Regions from separate parts of the Homo sapiens genome. Here region 2 is linked to region 1. Evidence: fine-mapped expression QTL. A gene starts in region 1. The other region holds a variant in brackets. All regions are shown on one strand. Distances are between the middles of the regions.

Region 1 (9,706 bases):
TACCTGGAGGCGAGGGATGCACTGGATGATAGGGTGATGAGGTCGTTTGAGGCCTTCATCCTTACCTCTTTGGCTCTCTCCCGGCAAGGGAGGTGTACAGCCTTGGGCTCTGGCAGTCTGCTTTCTGCCCTTGATCTTCTGGTAGCTGCTTTGCCAGCAGAGCTGCTAATGGCTGTTGTAGGCTGGCAGAGGTCCCTGGGGAGAGTTTTGAGAGGCCTTGGAGTAGGAGAGGCTTGCTAACTAGGGTATCATTTCCCCAAACTGTATGTGGCTGAAAGCTTGATGGCGACACATCAGCAAAGGAGCTGGGTGAAAGCAGGCAGCACAAGGAGGGATTTTAGCATGGTCTTGAGCCCCTGTTGGCTTTCCCTCAGGATGCAGTGACCAACATTTGGCCATCTTCATGGAAAAGCTGCCTGCAGCTGGAACCTGCAGAGGAGAAATTCTTTCCCTGGCTGTGCAGCACTAAGGCCGAGTGTTAGTGGAGCCATTGAGCCAGACAGACAGAGCCTCTGTCACTTCACACCTCTAGGAGTGTTGACAGCAGGTCTGGGGTAGTTGGCCTGGCCTGGCTGCAGCTTCATGGGGCCTGGCTTGCTCTGAGGATGATGGTATGGGGCTGCCCTCTCTAGGAATAATGACACCTGCATAGGTGGTGGCTGGGAGACTCTTTGACCTCTCAGTCCCATCCTTAGCTCAGCCTCTGTCTTCTAAGGTTCTCCTAGCTCTCAGCTAGGTCAAGAAGCTCTTTGAGAGATGAGGTTTTTTGTAGTTGTTTTTTTTTGCCTCTACACTGACTGGATCACTCTTCAAATGGCCTCAAAATCTGTCTCAGGTCTTGAAAATGTCATGGGCAGATAACATGTAGCCTTCGGGTTAACAGGGAGATACCCTTTCTCCCCTAAAGCTGCCCATTGGCCTCCATGATTCTTCCACCAAGTATAATAATCTCTTAGTTCTTCTGTATGCTGGTTGCATATCTAGGACAACAGACAATTGCTTTGGGCTTTTGATTTGTAAGGAACTGACTGGGGCATGGGAGGATGAGCTCATGGCTGGAGTCCTGGCTGTGTACAGTCACCGAGAAGTACCATTCATAGGGGAGAAGGATGTTCCTCCTCCTGATCTGGCTTCACATTTAAATATGTTTTCCTTCTTCCTGCACCCAGGTAATAGAAACTTGGGAGAGTGCCAGGCACATGGTGGTGCTCAATAAATAAGGTTGAATAAAAGGATTCAGTGTCTAGATAAAACTTCATGTTCATTTTCCTAGTTCTTCTCTCTCGTATCTGATATCATAATGATGATGACAATGATGTTGGCAGATAATGCTTATAAAACACATACTCTATGCCAGGTACCAGTCTAAACACTTCACTTATGCTCATTGTCATGGCAACCTATGAGATTGGCTTTTTATTATCCACACTTCATAGGGAATAAAACCGAGCCACAGAAAAGTTATTTAACTTGCCCAAGGTCATACAACTAAGTGGTGGAACAGGATTCAAATGCAGGGAGTCTAGCTGGAGTTTTTTTTGTTGTTGTTTGTTTGTTTGAAATGGAGTCTCACTCTGTCACCCAGGCTGGAGTGCAGTGGCACAATCTCAGCTCACTGCAACCTCCACCTCCCGGGTTCAAGCGATTCTCCTGCCTCAGCTTCCCAAGTAGCTGGGATTACAGGCGCCCGCTACCATGCCAGGCTAATTTTTGTGTTTTTAGTAGAGATGGGGTTTCCCCATGTTGGCCAGGCTGGTCTCAAAACTCCTGACCTCAAGTGGTCTGGCCGCCTCGGCCTCCCAAAGCGCTGGGATTACAGGCGTGAGCCACCACACTCAGCCTGAGTCTACGTTTTTAGCCATACACTCTACTCATTCCTGAGATTGCCATAGGTGGATTGATCTATTATAAATAGCTAGTTCACTTGTTCATTGTTTTATGCATTCATTCATTCAACAAATACTTGCTGAATGTCGACCATATTTCAGGTATGGGGATACAACTGTGAATGAGACAGGCGAGATTTGTCATGGAGCTGGTATTTAGCAAGTGAATCCCCTTTGTCCAACTCCTTGTGTGAGTCACACACACCTCACAAATGAGAAGAAAAATGAACCCCTCTATGCAAGCTCATGCCTGGCTTTTGGGGAGGAGAGTGATATCTTTCTTTTTCTTTTTCTTTTTTTTTTTCTTGAGATAAAGTCTTGCTCTGTCGCCAGGCTGGAGTGCAGTGCAGTGGTGCAATGTCAGCTCACTGCAACTTCTGCCTCCTGGGTTCAAGTGATTCCCCTGCCTCAGCCTCTCAAGTAGGTGGGACTACAGGTGCGCACCACCATGCCCAGCTAATTTTTTGTGTTTTAGTAGAGATGGGGTTTCACCACGTTGGCTAGGATGGTCTCAATCTCCTGACCTTGTGATCCACCTGCCTCGGGCTCCCAAAGTGCTGGGATTACAGGCATGAGCCACCATGCCCGGCCGATATCTTTCTTGATGAGACATAATTTGATTCCGTCCTCTCCTGTCTTTTAGAGTTTGTAAGGGGTGCTTAAGTGATAAAAGGGGATGCAGTCTAGTCTCGGGCAGGAGAAGCGGGCCCTGTATCTGGTTATCATAAATTGTCTTGATGTTTGTTCGAAAGGGAAATAAGGCTTTGAGCTTGGGATCAGTGCTCTTCAGTCCACAGAGACATCTTGGCTGCAAGAAGCAGCAACAAGTTAGGCTCAAGGTGGAATTGTGAGGTCCTGAGAAGAGCTTGCTCTTCTGGGACAGAACTGTATTTTTCTTCTAAACTGCCCATGTTCTGGGGAGTCTTCCCGCCTTTTGGCTTCAGCAGGACCCTTGGTCATTGTTACAACCTGTGTCATCTTAGTGGAGCTGCTGCTGGTTTCTGTCTGAACCCGATGCAATGGGTCTCATACCTGTAAACTGGGCTCCAGGAAGGCAGCTTTCTCTAAGTTGGAAAATGAAGACTCAAGGTGGAGGGTGTTTCCCAAAGCCGATACCACAAGATATTAATAGGTGTTTTTTTCCTATGACAGCAGTTCTAGGATGGTCAAATAAGTGCGTCGGGTTAAACAAAGTTAAGCAGCTTTCTTTACTGCAGGACTTCTCAGGTGTTGAATTTGCTAGTAGAAACTGTGCATGAATACCCATAAGGGACTACAGGATGCAGTGTTTTCCAAGCCTTCTGACCTTTCATGTTCTGCAGACTGCACTTTGAAAAATGCTTGTTTAGACTAAGGCTAGCTGGGATCCGGTTAAAGGTGCAGAATAAAATTCCCTGAACGTGTCGGACTTAAATCCTTGGGCTGGAATCCTCCCACTGCAGTCCCCACTCTACCTCCCCTTTCCCCAAAACACTAGCAGAAAAAGTCATCTGCCCCTCCTCCTTCTGGCAGAATAGTACTAAGGGCTTGGATTTTTTTCTCATACTGTAAGTTCATTTAATTGTTTAATGAATAAATATTACCCTCCCTCTAGGTTGCTTGTAGCCTGCTGGTTGCACTGTTTATGAAACAGCTGTGAGGACAGGTGGGCCGTAATCTCTGGGTAGCTAAAGCCCAGCAGCAGCCCGAGGATCATGTGTCAACCCTGTAATACTGCTCTGTGCACACAGGAATTATGATGTGAGCTCAGTAAGACACAACCTCACGATTGGACATGCGGAGGTGACTCAGGCCCAAGTCAGGGTTACAGCTAGCCTCCCGGTAAACAACTGACCCATCCTTCCTGAGCTCTTCTCCCCAGGATTTCAACAGCACCACAGAAATAGCCATTTTGCTCATGGTTATTTCCCAGGACCACAGGATTTGCCTAAGTCACTGGGAGGCTATGTGTCTGTTCTGAGCCTTCCCACTCTCCTAAAGGGCAGATGAAGATCAGAGCTTTGCACCCTGTGATGCCATTTTAATCAACCCTGCTTGGTTTTAGAGGATTGCTCCTGTGGGTCACTTGAGGCAGGCTCCACCTTCCCCAGGAGGAGTGGCAGAGTCCAGCCAGCGCTCGGAGCTGGAGGCCCACGTGGGAGCAGTGAGCGGCTGTAAGCAGGGGAGGGTTTGGGGTGGGCTCCGGTGGGTCAGTTGGGGTGTACTCCTTTTCTGTGTGTGTGGATGGGGGTGGGGGTTCTGGTAAAGCTTATCAGGCTTCGCAGTCACCTGTGATGTGGGCTTCCTTCTGGGAAGAAAGGAAGGAGTGGGATGGGGCTGTCAGCTTTTCATCCTAGCCTGCCCCTGTCCTCTGTCCGCCTCTGTGCTGAGGCAGTTCCTGCTCCCTGAGTCTCTGTCCTTTCCTGGGAAAGGTGGAAGCAGTTCATGGTCTTTCCCTTTCAGAGGAGGAGGGGATGGAGGGGATTGTATTAGCAACTGGGATTGAAGCTCCCCCTGGCAGTTATGGGGTGCCCTTGGGAGGGCTGCTTTAGGGGGGCTTTCTGAGAAGAGGCAGGTCGGGCTGTACCTGAGACCAATCCCCTTGATAAAATGCAGCCAGGCCTGAAGCACGTTCAGAACGGAAGCAGCAAAGGTGATGATATCGCTCGTTGCTACTCAGCTTTCAGGAGGAGGCTGGGCGTTAGAGGGAGGCTGTGGCTTATCTCCTGCAGCTGGGCAGGACGGCTGAGTTTACTGTTGTAAAGAGGAAGCCGCCGCTTTAGTTTCCTCTTGTGAGGGCTGTGAAGAGGGCCAGGACACTGCATTCAGGATACCACAGCCATTTTGTTTTGGATAACTGGGATTACCTGGGGACTTCAGGGCTCTTGGAAATTTTCCACTCATATTTCATATTCACGAGAGAATTTCCAGCCCAGGCTTTTCCTGCTCTGGCTCACTGCTGCTCACAGATATGCAAAACAGAGACCTCCTACTCCAGCCGGCAGACAGGACCCAGCCAGCTGCACGCACGCACTGACTCAGCTGAGCCTCCTGGGTGGCAGGCAGCACCTCACCCGGGTGCATCACTTGAGTGGCATCTTCAGGACCAGTCATGGAGCCAGGCTCAGGTCTGTGTCGGGGCTTCTGCAAGGGGAGTCTGGCAAGAGTAGGAACCAGCTTCCTTCGTATAACGAGGGGATTTCAGTGGCACTGGGCTTCCTTTCTGGAGGGACTGTGGCACCATGAAAAGTTACTGTTTGTTGAAACTGGCAGTGTTTTAGAACTTTCTAACTTTGGGACACTTCTTCAAGTTCATCAGAGCGTGTTGCATGTAACAGTGAGATAAGCTGTATCATTGGCTGACTGATGCTGGTGAATTCACAGCTAAGCCTCCCAAGCCTGCTGGCTTCAGCTGACAAAGGGTTGGAAGCCAGGCGTGAACATGCAGCTGGAGCTGAAGCTCTGCTTGGCATCTGCAGAGTGAGCTTTCCTTGTCAGGCCTGGCCTGGCAGGTGTCTGGAGGGTCTGAGAGGAGAGACACTCTGGAGGGACGGGTTGGCAGGTGGGAGCTGTCTGCCAAGGACATCCAGAAGGCAGCAGATGTGGGGGCAGCTGCTAAGGCCTGCAGCACCCCAAGTGGGTTACTTGGTCCATACTAAGATATGGAATTAATTATTTTGTTGTGGTTGCTGTTGTTTCTTGCTTTTTTTTTTTTTTTTTTGAGAGAAGGTCTTGCTCTGTCACCCAGGCTGGAGTACGGTGGTGCCATCATGGCTCACTGCAGCCTGCACCTCCAGGACTCGAGCAATTCTCCCAACTCAGCCTTCCAAATAGCTGAGACCACAGGTGCATGCCACCACACCTGGCTGTTTTTTTTTCTATTTTTTGTAGAGATGAGGTTCTGACATATTGCACCAGGCTGATCTCGAACTCCTGGCCTCAAGCGATCCTCTTCAGCCTCCCAAATTGCTTGGATTATAGGCATGAGCCACTGCACCCGGTCTTGGAATGAATTATCTACCAACTATTTAAGACACTGGTAGTAGTTCTGCGGAAGATTTTTATGGGTTCTGTAAAACAAAAAGGGTTCTGTATGTTAATGTTACTCTATGATCCTTGATTTTAATGAGCCTTATGAATGTGAGTTGAGGGGCTGTGGAATGCAACATCTCCCAATAACTGACCACAGGACCTGTTTTACCAGCAACAGGTATCAATTTCTTATGGCATCCAGTTTGGGAAAGGTTGATTTAAGCTAAAGAGAAAGGAAGATATGTTATAGAAAGCTGTGTCCTGAAAAGTATTTTTAGTTGATTAGAGCAAGCTAAAAATGCTTTGTGCGCTGGTATGATGGCTCACACCTATAATCCTAGACCCTGGGAGGCCAAGGCAGGCGGATCACTTGAGACCAGGAGTTCAAGACCAGCCTGGCCAACATGGTGAAACCCCATCTCTACTAAAAATACAAAAATTAGCCAGGCATAGTGGTGTGTGCCTGTGGTCCCAGCTACTCGGGAGGCTGAGGTGGGAGAATCACCGGAGCCTGTGAGGTCGAGGCTGCAGTAAGCTGTGATTGTGCCACTGCACTCCAGCCTGGGCAACTGAGACCCTGTCTCTCAATCAATCAATGAATAAATGCATGCTTCATGAGCAAACATGGCAGGATCTGGCATAAGAGCCCTCAGACATCAAGGACTTCCCTCCCACCCAAATACCCATTGCCAAGGGAGCCTGGTTGGGGGTGTCTGGGTCAGGCCTGTGTGTGTCTGAGGGCATGAAGGAGGTAGGAAGGTGCTGCTGGTGGTGGATGGCTTCTGTCCAGGGTAGGAGCTAACACAGAGATAGGTCTGAATGGTGAAACTCCCTTTGGCCTGGCCTCTCAATAGTGTGGGTTAGGCTGATCTTGAACTCTTAGCCTCAAGTGATCCTTCCTCCTCAGCCTCCCAAATTGCCTGGACAACATGGCAAAACCTCATCTCTAAAAAAAAAAAAAAAAAAAAAAATTAGCCAGGTATGGTGATGCTCCCTCCCTCCCTCCCTTCGGCAATTAAGGAGGGAGCCCTAATTGCCAAAACCTGCCAGAAAAAGAAGTTTGTTTTCCTATTTTTCTCTCTTTTCATAGAGTCTTAAGTCTACTCATTTTCTTTCTATTCTCTTTGTATTTGTTAAAAATGGCATTATAATAGCATTCATCATCAAAATAAAATATCCTCTCACACACAGGCAGCCCTGCCACCTGGTCATTTTGACTGCGTGAATCTCTTGCAGGTCTTGCCCATAAAGGGATGCATTTTCCTTTCACTGTAAATAAAGCATGGGTATGGTTCTATGTATTAATTTTTTCATTTACTGTATTTTTATTTTTTTATGTGATTGCACCATCCTCATAATCATAATTCTGATTACTTAACATCTTTTTCAAGTGAGTATGCTCTAATTTAGGCATTTTAAAGCTATTTATGTAAATAATGCAGGTAAATATCCTTGTGCTTTTCATTCTTAGGATTCTTTTTTTGAAAGAAATTTGTAGAAGTAAAGTTGCTTAGTCAAATGGTATGGTGCTTTATGGCATTTGCGGCCTTTTGCCTGGGCTGTTGGGTTGCATATCTTCTTCTGAGATGCGATGTGAGGTTTTGGGATGGTGCCCTTGATTGGTGGCCTTGGAATAAGGGGGGAGGTGAGGATCCAGTTTCGTTTCAGCCTGATGGAGCCTCCTGGGTCTGGTTCTTTGTGCTGTTCCAGACTTTCTCTCCCCTGTCACCTCCTTTGATGGCCTCCAGCTTCCCCCCTCTCTGCTATCAAGACATGGAAATCCCCACAGGCAGCTCTGTTCCTCTTCCTTTTTGCAGAGGCCAGGCCTCGCTGTCTTGATGTCTGCTCCCCAGACAGTTGTGTGTTGACAGGCTGTTCCCCACCAGCTCCCTCCCACTCCTCTCATCAGGGAGTGGCAGGTCCTTGGGTCTCAGAGTTAAGGGAGCCACAGACCTCACTCTGATTGCCTGTTGCTAGCCTGCTTTCTTCCTTCCTGTCTGTGTCATGACTTAGTCCCACATGCCACTCAGACTCAGAGCAGCAAGCCCTCCTCAGGCACCGGAAATCTCTCTGGTACCTAGAATTATGCCACTTAGAGCTGAGAGGGCCTTAGAGACCACTTAGTTCAATCCCTTTATCTCACAGATGAGAACATTGTGAGGCCGGAGAATGACTGTCCCAAGATGGCCTAGTGTGTTCCCCTCCCCTGTAGCTGCACTTCTCCCTGCTGGACAGCAGCAGGGCTCTGTCTCATCTCCATTCTTGTCTGTCTGGTCCACAAAACCACTTCTCTCTTTAAACCAACTTTAAAGAAACTGTGGTCATAGGTAGATGGGAAACTCCTCTTCCAGAGCTGCTCCCAACGAGGGTGGCTTGTCGAAAAGGGTGCAGTATTAATCCATTCCACAAGTGTTATGCTGGGGACTGTGAGGAGCCCCTGCCCGGACACATACGTGGACAAAGAGAAGCAGCACAGCATGGTGGGTGAGGGGACAGAGGCAGGAACCAGGTGCCTGGGTTCAGATCCCTGAGCTGAGGATCAGAGAGGAAAGGGATGAGAGAGAAAGGCTGAGAACAGCACAAATCTCTGCTGACTTATTAAAAGTGTGACCCTGGGCATGTTAGCTCTCTATGCCTTCATTTTCTCATCTGTCAAGTGGGAATAATAAGATTAACTGAGTTAATAAGTATGAAGTTCTTTGCAGAGTATATATATGTATGTATACATATATAAAATATATATTATATATAATATATATTATATATAATATATATTTTATATATATATATATATTTTATTTTTAAAATTGAGACGAGGTCTCACCCTGTCTCCCAGGCTGGAGTGCAGTAGTACGATCATAACTCACTGCAGCCTCAACCTCCCTGGCTCAAGAGATCCTCCTGCCTCAGCCTCCCTAGCAGCTGGGATTACAGGCATGCATCACCATACCTGGCTAATTCTTTAAATCTTTTTTAGGGATGAGGTTTTGCCATGTTGTCCAGGCTGGTCTCAAACTTCTGGGCTCAAGCAGTCCTCTTGCCTTGACCTCCCAAAGTGCTGGTATTACAGGCGTGAGCCACCACACCCGGCCCCAGAGTATACTTTTTTTTTTTTTTTGAGGCAGAGTCCCACTCTGTTACCCAGGTTGGAGTGAAGTGGCTCAATCTTGGCTCATTGCAACCTTCACCTCCTAGGTTTAAGCAATTCTCTTGCCTCAGCCTCCTGAGCAGCTGGGATTACAGGTGCCTGCCACCACGCCTGGCTAATTTTTTTGTATTTTTAGTAGAGACGTGGTTTTGCCATGTTGGCCAGGATGGTCTCAAACTCCTGACCTCAGGTGATCTGCCCGCCTCAGCCTCCCAAAATGCTAGGATTACAGGCGTGAGCCAATGCGCCTGGCCAGAGTGTACATATTAAGTGCTATACAAGTAATTGCAAAAAAGGAAAGAAATAAGGAAATGAAGAAAGCAAGCAAGCAAGAATGAAACCCAACCAACCAAGCAGGTGGTTGAGGCCAGTGACTGTTAGTAAGGAATCAGTATGCGAGGAGGTGGATAGAGAAAGCTTCTTTGAGGGAGTGAGTTTTCAGCTGGGTAAAGAGTGTTCTAAAACCTTTATTTTATTTGCTGTGTCTTGTTAGGAGGTTCCAGAGGGTTTGGAACTGCAATAGCAGATTCTTTCTCTTCAGCAAAAGGCCTTGATTTATGTAATGAAGAATGCAGCTTTGGATTTCCCAGGGCTCTGCTGTAATCTTGTGCGACCTTAGCTGTTAAAGCCTCTGTGAAGTGGGGGAGTGAGGTTTGATTAT
Region 2 (11,082 bases), 47 kb after region 1:
TGTTTTAGACAAACATATTCTGGCTGTTGTGTGGAGTTGGCCCAGAAGAGAAGGTAGCTGGAGGTGGGGGCAGGGGTGAGAGTCAGGGGCCTGCCTGGAGACAGGAGGGGAGCTTGACCCAGCGGAAATAGCTCACACTCGTGCGTGCTTCTGCCTGGCCTGGTCAGACGCCACAACGTGATCTCACCTAAGCCTCACAATTACCCCGTTACTATCACCATTTTGTTGTTAACAGTAAGCGGAATTATTATGTGCTTGGTGCGTGTTGGACACGGTGTTGAGTGCTCTCCCTGGATTATCTCATTTAATCCTCACCAAAGCCCTGTGAAGCTGCTAGCTTCAATTGACACACAAGGAAATTAAAACAGATCATAAAGCTAAAAGTGGCAGAGCTGGAATGCGTTTCCAGGCAGGCTGACTCCAGCGATGTACCCTGAACCCCTATTCTATGTTGCCTCCCAAGTGAGAATAGTAAGGTGCACAGCAGCTACCAGCTTGCGTCTCTGAGGTGTGGCAGCGCAGGGACTCTGCACAAAGTGTGGGGCTTGGTGAGAAGCGGTGGGCGTACACCTGGCAGGACCTGGACAGAGACTGAAGGAGGCACTGGGGGGAGTCTAGGATGCCTCCCAGGTGCCTGGCTTTGCAGGAGCATGGATGATGTGCTGTCCGAAGGTTGCTGCCAGCAATGGAGGAAGAGCAGGTATGGGGAGGAGGAGGAAGAGCAGGAGGAGGAGACAACGCATTTTGCACCCGAGGCTGTGGGAGATGCAGTGGTGAGGCCCTGCTTCAGCTGGATAGAGCTCTGAAGAGGGGCTGAAATTATCCGCATGCCAGGCCCCAGAAAGTTCGGGTGAAGTATGGAGCTAGTGAGCACAGAGCAGAGCTCAAGGTCCTCCCTGGCCCCCCAAACCCGTCTAGGGAGTGCTTAGGGTCATAGCAGGGACCCTGTCATTTCCTTTGACACACAGGGCTCTGTGACACGGAAGATTCTGGCCAAGCTGCCTTGCTCCTCTGGGCCTTTGCTGCCCCCATAGGAACAGGAGAGGCCAGCAGACCTGGCTGGGGTCTGGGGCGTGGGCTGGGAGCCCTCCAGTTTGGGCCAGTTGTGGATTAAGGGGGACAGTCTCTTTCTCCCATCTGCTATTCAGAGGCCCCTTTGCAAAGCACTGCCGTGGCCTGGTAGCAAGCCTCCCCTGTGCGCTGAGAGCCCGTACCCTCCATGCATGTGTTCTTGGTTGGGGATGACCCCTGGGATCAGCCAGAAGGCTCCAGTGACTCAGGAGCAGCCCCCCAGGGGTCCCAGCCAAGGTAGAACTGCAGTGGAAGGGTGGGGGTTTCCTGAGGCTACTCAGGCCCATCTCAGAGGGCAGCTCCCAGTGGGGATTGGAGAGCAGAGCTGCCTCCCAGGAGCCATGGCTTAGCCCAGCAAGGACCCTCTTATCTGTCTGTGAGGCAGCTGGCGGGTTTCTCCTGGCCACACCTGGACATGCCCTAGAGTATTCTCTACCTACCGCCCCAAAGAGTGCAGACCCAGAGCCCAGAACCTGTTTTTTTTGTTTGTTTGTTTTTTGTTTTTTTTAGATGGAGTCTTGCTCTGTCACCCAGGCTGGTGCGATCTCGGCTCACTGCAACCTCCACCTCCGGGGTTCAAGTGATTCTTCTGCCTTAGCCTCCTGAGTAGCTGAGATTACAGGTGCACGCCACCATGCCCAGCTAATTTTTGTATTTTTTTTTACTAGAGACGGAGTTTCACCATGTTGGGCAGGCTGGCCTCGAACTCCTGACCTCGTGATCTGCCCGTCTCCTCCTCCCAAAGTGCTAGGATTACAGGCATGAGCCATCATGTCTGGCCAAACCTGGTTTCTTGAGCAACTTTCTTAATTGCTTTGGCCCTGGTTTGCTCAATTGTAAAATGGGGCTGGCAGCCAACCCCTCCCTCCTGGGTTGCTCTGAATATGAATTAACTGACGTGAGTAAAGTGCTTTGAGCAGGGCTTGATGAGTGATGTGTACTAGGACCCTTTTCCCTCATCGCTTGTCGCTGCTGCTGATGGCAATGGCCACTCCTCCCTGCAGGCTGGCCTCGGCATAGCAGAGGGGCAGGTGGTGGCCATGGCTGCTTTGCCCTTCACCTGGCTTGGCAGTTTCCTCCACTGTCACCACCACCACACAGGGGCTTGGCACTCTCCTGTCTCACCTCCAGAGTACCTATGGAAGCTCCGAAGGGGCAGACCTTGGTGTTGTACCCACTTTTCATCCCTGGGAGGAATATGGCCTCAGGCAGGCCAAGGGGTCCCCAGCTGAGGTGTGAACCTGAGGGGCCCAGACCCACAGGCCTCTGGCAGCTATGAGCTCTGGGAGGCTGAACCGAGGCTGAGTCCTGGTCCTGCCTTGGCCTGGTGCTCAGGACCTCTCCTGCCCAGGTGACGGGGTTTGACAGCGTGGATGATGAGTCCAAGCACAGCGACCACATGTTTTCCGACAAGAGCCCAAACCCGGACGTCTGGACCAGTGAGCAGAACCCACCCTACAGCTACTACCTGTACTACATGTATGCCAACATCATGGTGCTCAACAACCTCCGCAGGTGCGTGAGGCCTGCCCTCGCACATGCTTGGGTTCATGTGTTAGTACATGCACGCATGCACACACATGCACACACACATGCATGTGATCCTTGTGTCCGTGTGCACCTGAACCAACATGCATGTCCATGTGCCCACACACCTCAAAACACACAGCACTTTCCAGCCTGCTATATGAGGCATGTCTCCACATGATCACACACATGCAAACATGCCCACCATAACACACATGCCAGTACAGACATATGTCATGTACAGTATGCAATGCAGCCACAGTCCACACGTGTCCACACATTTATATGTACACACACCAGGGCACACTCCACGTGTACCTGTACATCCCTGAGATAATGGAAGCATAGGACATGCTATCACACATGCACGGTCACTTACTGCCACACCAACAATGTCCACACGTGCATATTTTCGTTCAGCAAATCACTGCATCTGGCATGCGATAGGCATTGCCCTGGGCACTGGACAAATAACGGGGAACAAAACAGACTAAATCCATGCATGCCCTTACAGGCAGAGGCTCCTACCAATACGCACACAGACGAGGCACACGTGGCCAGGAGTTAGCTGCCCAGGGCAGCAGGACACTGAGCCATTCCCTTCCCTACAAGTCTTGCATCCCACTTTCCCCTGCTGGGCCCTGGGGTCTCTCTAGCTCAGCCTAAACTGGTGCTAGTTGGTGGGTGTGGAGGTTTCGAATGGGGTCCTGATTGAAAGAAATGGCCTGGCAGGGTGGAGGCAGTCCTGGGCTGAGCTTTTGGAGATGGGGGCTCTGGTTCTGGCTTTGCTACTGACCTGTTCAGTGGCATGGAACATAGACTTCACTCTCCGGGCCTTGGTTTGCCCATTTCCATAACACAGAGGTCAGACTCTGTGGTTTCTCATGGCCTTCCCTGCTCTGGAGTTCTACGAATGCGGGACACAAGGCCAGGAGAGGAATTCAGGAGAGTGGCTGGAGGGCACAGCAGGGTCTCTTTCTACTGCGAGGCCCACTCTCTGCCCGTAGAGGTGATGCTTCTTGGTTCTAAGGGGCCCCAGGGCCTGGACCTCTGCATTTTAGGAGGGGTAGTTTCCAGGGTGCACTGGGTCAGCACAGCTGACCATGGGTGGTCATTCCCCCCGGAGCTGGCCCTGAGCTGTGGCTGCAGGCCCCAGGCAGAGCCAACTGGGGGGGGCCTTCCTGATTCGGAAACCCCTTCTCTTACAGGGAGCGCGGCCTGAGCACGTTCCTGTTCCGGCCGCACTGTGGGGAAGCCGGCTCCATCACCCACCTGGTGTCTGCCTTCCTCACTGCTGACAACATTTCCCACGGGCTGCTCCTCAAGAAGGTAACCAGGTCACTCTCGGGAGCCCGTCCTGAGTGACTGCCCTGCCCTGGGCTCCTGGGAGGCTCAACCAGTGAGGCCAGAAGGCTGGGCCCTCTTCTGGGCTGGGATGTCTGTCCTTATCTTGGTTTTATTTTTAATTATGAAAGTAATATAATCAAACTCATCACAATTTTGATTTTCCAAAAACTGGAGAAATGGAAAAAAGCCAGCCCTTATGCTATTACATTAATAGAAATAGCCATTATTAGCTTTTTAGTATATCTAATTTCCATCTTTTATCCACAGCATATTTTTAATGTGTTTATTATCATAATGAACACAGAATTTGGTTCCTGCCTCGTCCCTTACTGTTGTATGACAAGCATTTTTTGATGCTGCAACGTAATATCTATGCTCCTTTTTCCAAAGGCTGTTGTTGGATGAAGGGTCTGCCACTTTGTCTGTAATTGACTCAACCAGTCCACACTAGTTGGGCACAGAGTCCATCCACCTTTTCACTGGTGTACCCTTGAGCTCTGTGCATACAGTCTTCTCCGTATTTTGGATCACTTTCCATTGGCACGATGTTTGATCAAAATGCTCCCTTTCCCTGATCCCGGTGAGGTGTAACCATGGGTCACATTTTTGGGTGGGGTGGGTGCTACAGTAGAAAACCACTCTATCCTGGGCAGGTCCACCCCTCCCATCCCTTCAGGGATCATCTCCCAGGAGCTGGAGTGTTTATAGTCTCAACCTGGCTGTTTGCAGTCAAAGCAATAAAACAGCTAGAGGGGGGCATCTTCTAGACTGGGTCCGTGCCTAGGAGAAAGGAGCTGAAGGTGTAGGCTGGAGTGGGCTGCCCTTCCTGCCCTGAGCCTTGCCTCCAGTTTGGAGCAAGAATGAGCACTTCCAACAGTGGGTAGAGGCACCAGGGAGGGCTGGCATGCAATGTAGGAATGAGATGAACAGTGGGGAAGGGGAGAGTGGGTCTGAGTGTCCTGGCTTCGAGGAACTCGGGTTGAGGACTTGGGCAGACATGGTTCAGACCCCTGGTTTCCACTGGTGAATGCTTCTTCCCTTCCTTTCTCCCTTCCCTTTTCCCTTCTCCCCTCTCTGGCACTTGTCACATGAGTTCGGTGGTTCTTTTGCAGAGTCCGGTATTGCAGTATCTCTACTACCTTGCTCAGATCCCCATTGCCATGTCTCCTCTTAGCAACAACAGTTTGTTCCTCGAATATTCCAAGAACCCTCTGAGGGAATTCCTACACAAGGGACTGCATGTTTCTCTTTCCACCGATGACCCCATGCAGTTCCACTACACGAAGGTAAGGACTTTGGGGTGAGGACAGTAGTGCTTCAGTAGGCACCAGTCCTAGCCTGTCCTCCCATTTCAGGAACCTGAGCCCATGGCTTAGTTCTGCTTTTGGGGTGGGGTTGGTGGCCCAGTGAAGGCAGGAAGGAAGCCACTGTTGGGGGAAAATTGTGCCAT[C/G]CAGGAGCCCTTTCTTTGGGGTTCTTGAACCCTCAAAGGCACAATTTAGTATCTTTGCCTTCCTCTATTTTCTCTTTCTTTGACATTTATGAGCTCTGTGACCTTGGTAAAGTTATTAGATTTCTGGATCAAGTTCTTCTTCATCTGTAAAATGGAGATAAAATTTTCTCTGTCCCTACCCTGTAAGGATTCATGAAGATAATGAATCAAAGGTTCTAACATAGTGTCTGCATATATTCAAAATGGTTGCTACTTTTTAAATCAATGCTATTATAATTTCTACACTTTGGGTCTCTGGGAAAATAAAAGAGGAAGCTAACAGTGGTGTCATGCATGGGGACTAGCCGCAAGTATACCCAGCATGTTTTGATGGTGTCGACAAGACCAGCCATTGCTTAACAAAAACAGAAGCACCAGAGTCTTTTAGGACAGAGGTTCTCCAACCTCTTGGTCTCTGGACCCCTTTATACTCTTAAGAATTGAAGCTTTCAAAGACCTGTTGTTTATGTGGGTTATATCTACTGATATTTACCATGTTAGAAATGAATAAGAAATTTTAAAATATTTATTATCTCATTTAAAAACCACATCAATAAACCAATGAAATGTTACATAATAATGATTTTTTTTCTGAAAAGTAACAGTTTCCCCTGCCTTTGTTTTGCATTTTTAAGCCTCTTTAATGTCTTAATGGAAGTCAGCAGGACTCTTCTAGCCACTTCTGCATTCAATTTGTTTTTAATCAAAATATGTAAAAATAGAAATCTTGCCTCATGAAAATACATAATTGGAAAAGACAAGACCTTTCAAAAGGTCTTAGGACCCTCAGGGGTCCTTGACCTGTACTTCGAGAACTATTGCTCTAGGCTACAGCGGCAGTGGGGTGGGGAAGAGGTCACAGACGGCTTGTGATGAATAGACACTTCACATCCCAGAAGGGAAGCAAAACCACAGCTCAAACCCAGATCATTCTGGGATTACACCATTTTACCACTTATCCTATGATCACTTCTCATTTTTTTTTTGATGTTCCATCTCTGCTTTTAGTACTTTACTCATCTATCTATCTATCTATCTATCTATCTATCTATTTATCTATCTATCATCTATCTATCTATTGCAAACTTAAGAAAATAGTGTGTTAAAAAGAAAAGCTAGAGGGCAAGTGCTAAATGTGGCATGACTAGAGGGCTTGTCACAGGAGAGCAGAGACTGCCATCCCTGATGACTGGCACAGGGTTTCAACATGAGGTCTCAGTGCTGGTCAATGAATAAATGTAGAGGCGTGATTTTAGATCTCTCTTTGATAACCCATGATTTTACAGAAGAAAAGATCTTAGGCTTTGAAGGTGTGATGTTTGATGATCCAGGTGCCATTTAGTGAGGAAAAGTTAAACCCGCAGTGTCTGATGTTGTTAGCTTTGGACATGTGTGAACGATTGACATGGATATCCCCCCTTCTAATCCACATGCTTTGGGGGAGGATCTAGGAAGCACTTATGGAAGAATATGCCATTGCAGCTCAAGTGTGGAAGCTGAGCACCTGCGACCTGTGTGAGATCGCCAGGAACAGCGTGCTGCAGAGCGGCCTCTCGCATCAGGTATGGAGTGTGACGGTGCTGCCTGTGTCCCTCCTGGGAAGGCTGCCTGCTGTGTGCCAGGAGCCTTCCAGGCACTGGGGATCTGTGATGAACATAGCAGGCAGGGCCTCTGAGACACTCAGGCACAGGGAGAGAAGACGCGGCAGCCTCCTGTGTTTTCATGGCTGCTTCCTCACCCTTCTCAGACCTCTACGCCTCCTTGGAGAGGCCTTCCCTGATCGCCCATTCTAAAATAGCCACACACTTGCTATTATTCTCTATCCCCTTAATCAGTTTTTCTCCATACCATTTATTCCTGCTGATGTTTAGTTATGTGTTTTTCTGTCTTTCCCTCTAGCATGTAAGCTCTGTGAGGGCAGAGGTTTGTTCAGAATTATATCCCCGGGCCCTAGATAGTCCCTGGCACATAGCAGGCGCTCAATATTTCTTGAATAGATGAACAGTATCTAGACTGAATAAAAATCTAGACTATGGGACTCAGACATCTGTCATTTTTTAAAAAGCCTGATGAGGAGCTGGCACTGAGACCCATGTTCTGATGTACGTTAGGTCCCCCGACACCTCCCTGGGTGATGTCACTGGTTGGGAAGAGGTTGCATTAGGGGCTGTGCTCGTCGGATGATGATGCAGCAGAGTTAAAGGCTTAAGATTCTTTTCATGCGCAGTGTGGTGCCTTGGATTGGCCCTCCCCAGGAACATTGTCCTTGTCAGCTCTCAGGGGCTTCTTAATTAGAGTCTTACCTCCTTCCCCTTTGCCTTTCCCATCCCCAGCAGCTGCTGCAGACCTTATCTTTCCTCTCTGATCAAGGAAAGCACAGCCAGGAATGAAGGGCTGTCTGAGGATGACTGAGGTTGTCAGGGTGACATCCTTGAGGACACAGAGGCCAGCAGGAATTTTAAGAGTTCTGTGGGGATAAGATGTCCTGACCAAAGATCTGCTTCAGGGGGACTAGTCTGACTTGCTGTGACTGATGTCAAAGCTGCCCACATGGCTATAGAAAGTGAATCAAAAGTATATAGTTTCATTTGTATTTCTCTTGGTCCACAGGAAAAGCAAAAGTTTCTGGGACAAAATTATTATAAAGAAGGACCTGAAGGAAATGATATTCGAAAGACAAATGTGGCTCAGATCCGGATGGCATTCCGATATGAGACCTTATGCAATGAGCTCAGCTTCCTGTCTGATGCTATGAAATCAGAAGAGATCACCGCCTTGACCAACTAGGTCCAGCATTTGACATGCATTTTAACTTTTTGGTTCAATTTCAAGTCTGCTGTGGCTAATAGTGGTCAAGATTCCGAACTAGGACTTTCCTCTGTGAAGAGGATGCCTCTGAAGAAATTTTAAACTGGTGATTTTGGTTGCACTGCTCACTTTAAGAGTTAACATGCTCACTTGTTAGTATTTCTGAGTAACAAGATGGTGACTTCTCCTTGGGGATCTGGGAGCTGAGCACTTGTCTATACTTGTTCCTAATTTTCCAAGTATTTCTCTTGAAACTGCCAGTGCCTGAACTGTTGGGGCCAGGATTTTCCCTGGTCAGATGCCAAGTAACATGTGGTTTTCTGCCATACTTTTCTCCATTGGCCCAGGTAGGCTAATTGGTAGTTGTTCATTTCAGCCTCTGGATGGCTGGCTGCCTTAAACACAATCAATTTCAAAGCTCCATTTCATAAAGGGGCTACTTTGAAGGAGTTAAGATGGAAGACTTCCTTCTTGACAAATTGTGTTTTTAGTGAATTTCTTAAACCGTTTTATTTAGCCCTCCTTCCCTCTTTCTAGTTGGAAGCCAAATGTACTCATGAAAACAGCCACTCCTATTCTGAGTCTTGGTTTCTTCACCTAGAAAGTGAGGGTTTGGACTAGATGAGTGGCTTTCAGGGTGTTCTGTGAATCTCCTCATGAATACTTTAGGGTAGGGGAGGGAAGGGAGTGAGTGATGCTCAGGGGCTGTCAAAGTGACTGCGTTCATCAGTTTTACACTGGGGCTGCTACATAATATTTTCATTTGAACGAAGAACTTCAAAAAGCACAGGACTAGATGATCTCTGTTCCTTTTGGCTCTAATATGCTACAACTGTAGGCCAATTATCACTTTACCAATTAAGAGTTAGGCCAGATAAGTGAAATTTAACTTAAGGGCACACAGCTAATAAGTAATAGGCCTAAACTGGATTTCCTTATTCCAAATCCTGTCTTTTCCCCACTATTCCATTAGACCCCACAAATGTTAGTTGTGTGTGTGTGTGTGTGTGTTTTTAATCACTGTAACCGGATGCATTTTTTTAAGGCAAAATTTCTCCCTTATCTACTATGATGACTTCAGAAGATACAATGGTCCCAGGGGCCAAGTAGAAAGCATTTTTAAAGATTAATCTGAATTAAGCTTTATCAGTGTACTCTTTATCTGTGTTACTAGTGCCTGGTATGTAGTAGGTGCTCAATAAATGCATATTGAATAACTAAGTGAATTTCTTTTGGCAACTTTTTAAGGACATGTGCTCTTAGTACTTAAGAGGCTGCTCAAGGACCTTCCTATCTATTTCTGTGGTCAAATTCAGACTACAGGAGGTCTTTTTGAATCATTATAGTTAGAAGAAGAATCCAGTTTCTGCCTGTGAACTTATTTGACTTTAGATTGTCTCATCTTGTGACTTTATAATGCCTGTCCCCTCCACTGGTCAATTCAGCATATGGAAGTATAAATGCAGTCTTTTTACTAGGCAGATATATATGCTATCTTACAGCTAATTATGAAATTGAATGAAAATCCATTGTTATCTTAGGGATTAGTTTTGAAAAGCCCCCGTTTATATACATTTGCCCTAACATAGGAAGTATTGTGTAGTTTCTCATTGTCATTTTATCTGTATCAAGTATCTTTTTTTAAATTGTTAAATAAAGTCAGCTAGGACTGTGGCTCAATAGTTTAAAACTATTTAAAGATAATCATATTTAAAGCAAATGTTAAAGATTTTTACTCTTAAGATTGGGCACCATGAAAAGCTATCAATAATAATAGCTAATTTATCTTTTACTAAGACTCCGACATGAATGACATTCACTAGGAAAACTCAAAATTTTCAAACTGAAGCTCACCAGACCCAGAAGATAAATCTTCCTTTGTTATTTTCTCTAACTTCTACCCTGTTATAGTTCATGAGCAAAGCTATACATGTTCCTTTCCTTTTCCCGGGGTATTATTTTAGTCTGTCCAGCTAACACCTTGTTGATATGGACTCTAGAATAGGATTGCGCTGTTATCCCTAGGGTAACTTGTTCCGTTGGTCAAGTTATTGGATCAATTAAACGTGGTAATTCGCTTTGACTGGTGAAGTCTCGGCATGTGTTGCTCGGAGGTCGGATTGTGCTCCGAGGTCGCCCCAACCGAAATTTTTCACGCAGGTTTGATAGTTTAGGGCCTGTGGACTTGTTAAGTGTTGTTTGCGTTAATGAATTAAAGCTCCATAGGGTCTTCTCGTCTTGTTATACTATGCCCGCCTCTTCACGGGCAGGTCAATTTCACTGGTTGAAAGTAAGAGACAGCTGAACCCTCGTGGAGCCATTCATACAAGTCCCTATTTAAGGAACAAGTGATTATGCTACCTTTGCACAGTTAGGGTACCGCGGCCGTTAAACGCATGTCACTGGGCAGGCGGTGCCTCTAATACTGAGAATGCTAGAGGTGATGTTTTTGGTAAACAGGCGGGGTAAGATTTGCCGAGTTCCTTTTACTTTTTTTAACCTTTCCTTGTGGGCATGCCTGTGTTGGGTTAACAGTGGGGGTAATAATGGCTTGTTGGTTGGTTATAGATATTGGGCTGTTAATTGTCAGTTTAATATTTTGGTCTGATGTAGGCTTATGCGGAGGAGAATGTTTTCATGTTACTTATACTAACATTAGCTCTTCTATAGGGTAATAGATTGGTCCAATTGGGTGCAAGGAGTTCAGTTATGTGTTTGGGATTTTTTAGATGACAGGTGTCGAGCTTGAACGCTTTCTTAATTGGTGGCTGCTTTTAGGCCTACTGTGGGTATTAAATTTTTTACTCTCTTTACAAGGTTTTTTCCTAGTGTCCAAAGAG

What was found.
Region 2: its variant is fine-mapped to the expression of AMPD3 in blood mononuclear cells (TOPMed, PIP 0.96).

What each region holds. Positions count from the first base shown.
Region 1 is chr11:10,451,410-10,461,115 of GRCh38, forward strand. It overlaps AMPD3 (adenosine monophosphate deaminase 3), which reads left to right and starts at 3,855. Exons shown (of 15, transcript NM_001025389.2): 1 at 3,855-4,039. RefSeq lists enhancers at 332-461, 4,730-4,779, 7,579-7,708.
Region 2 is chr11:10,497,664-10,508,745 of GRCh38, forward strand. It overlaps AMPD3 (adenosine monophosphate deaminase 3), which reads left to right. Exons shown (of 15, transcript NM_001025389.2): 11 at 2,423-2,586; 12 at 3,807-3,927; 13 at 5,058-5,231; 14 at 6,886-6,996; 15 at 8,045-9,916. The coding sequence ends at 8,221. It overlaps MIR4485 (microRNA 4485), which reads right to left and starts at 10,663; the gene lies at 10,607-10,663. It also overlaps the pseudogene MTRNR2L8. RefSeq lists an enhancer at 2,406-2,999. The variant C/G (reference allele first, on the strand shown) is at 5,396.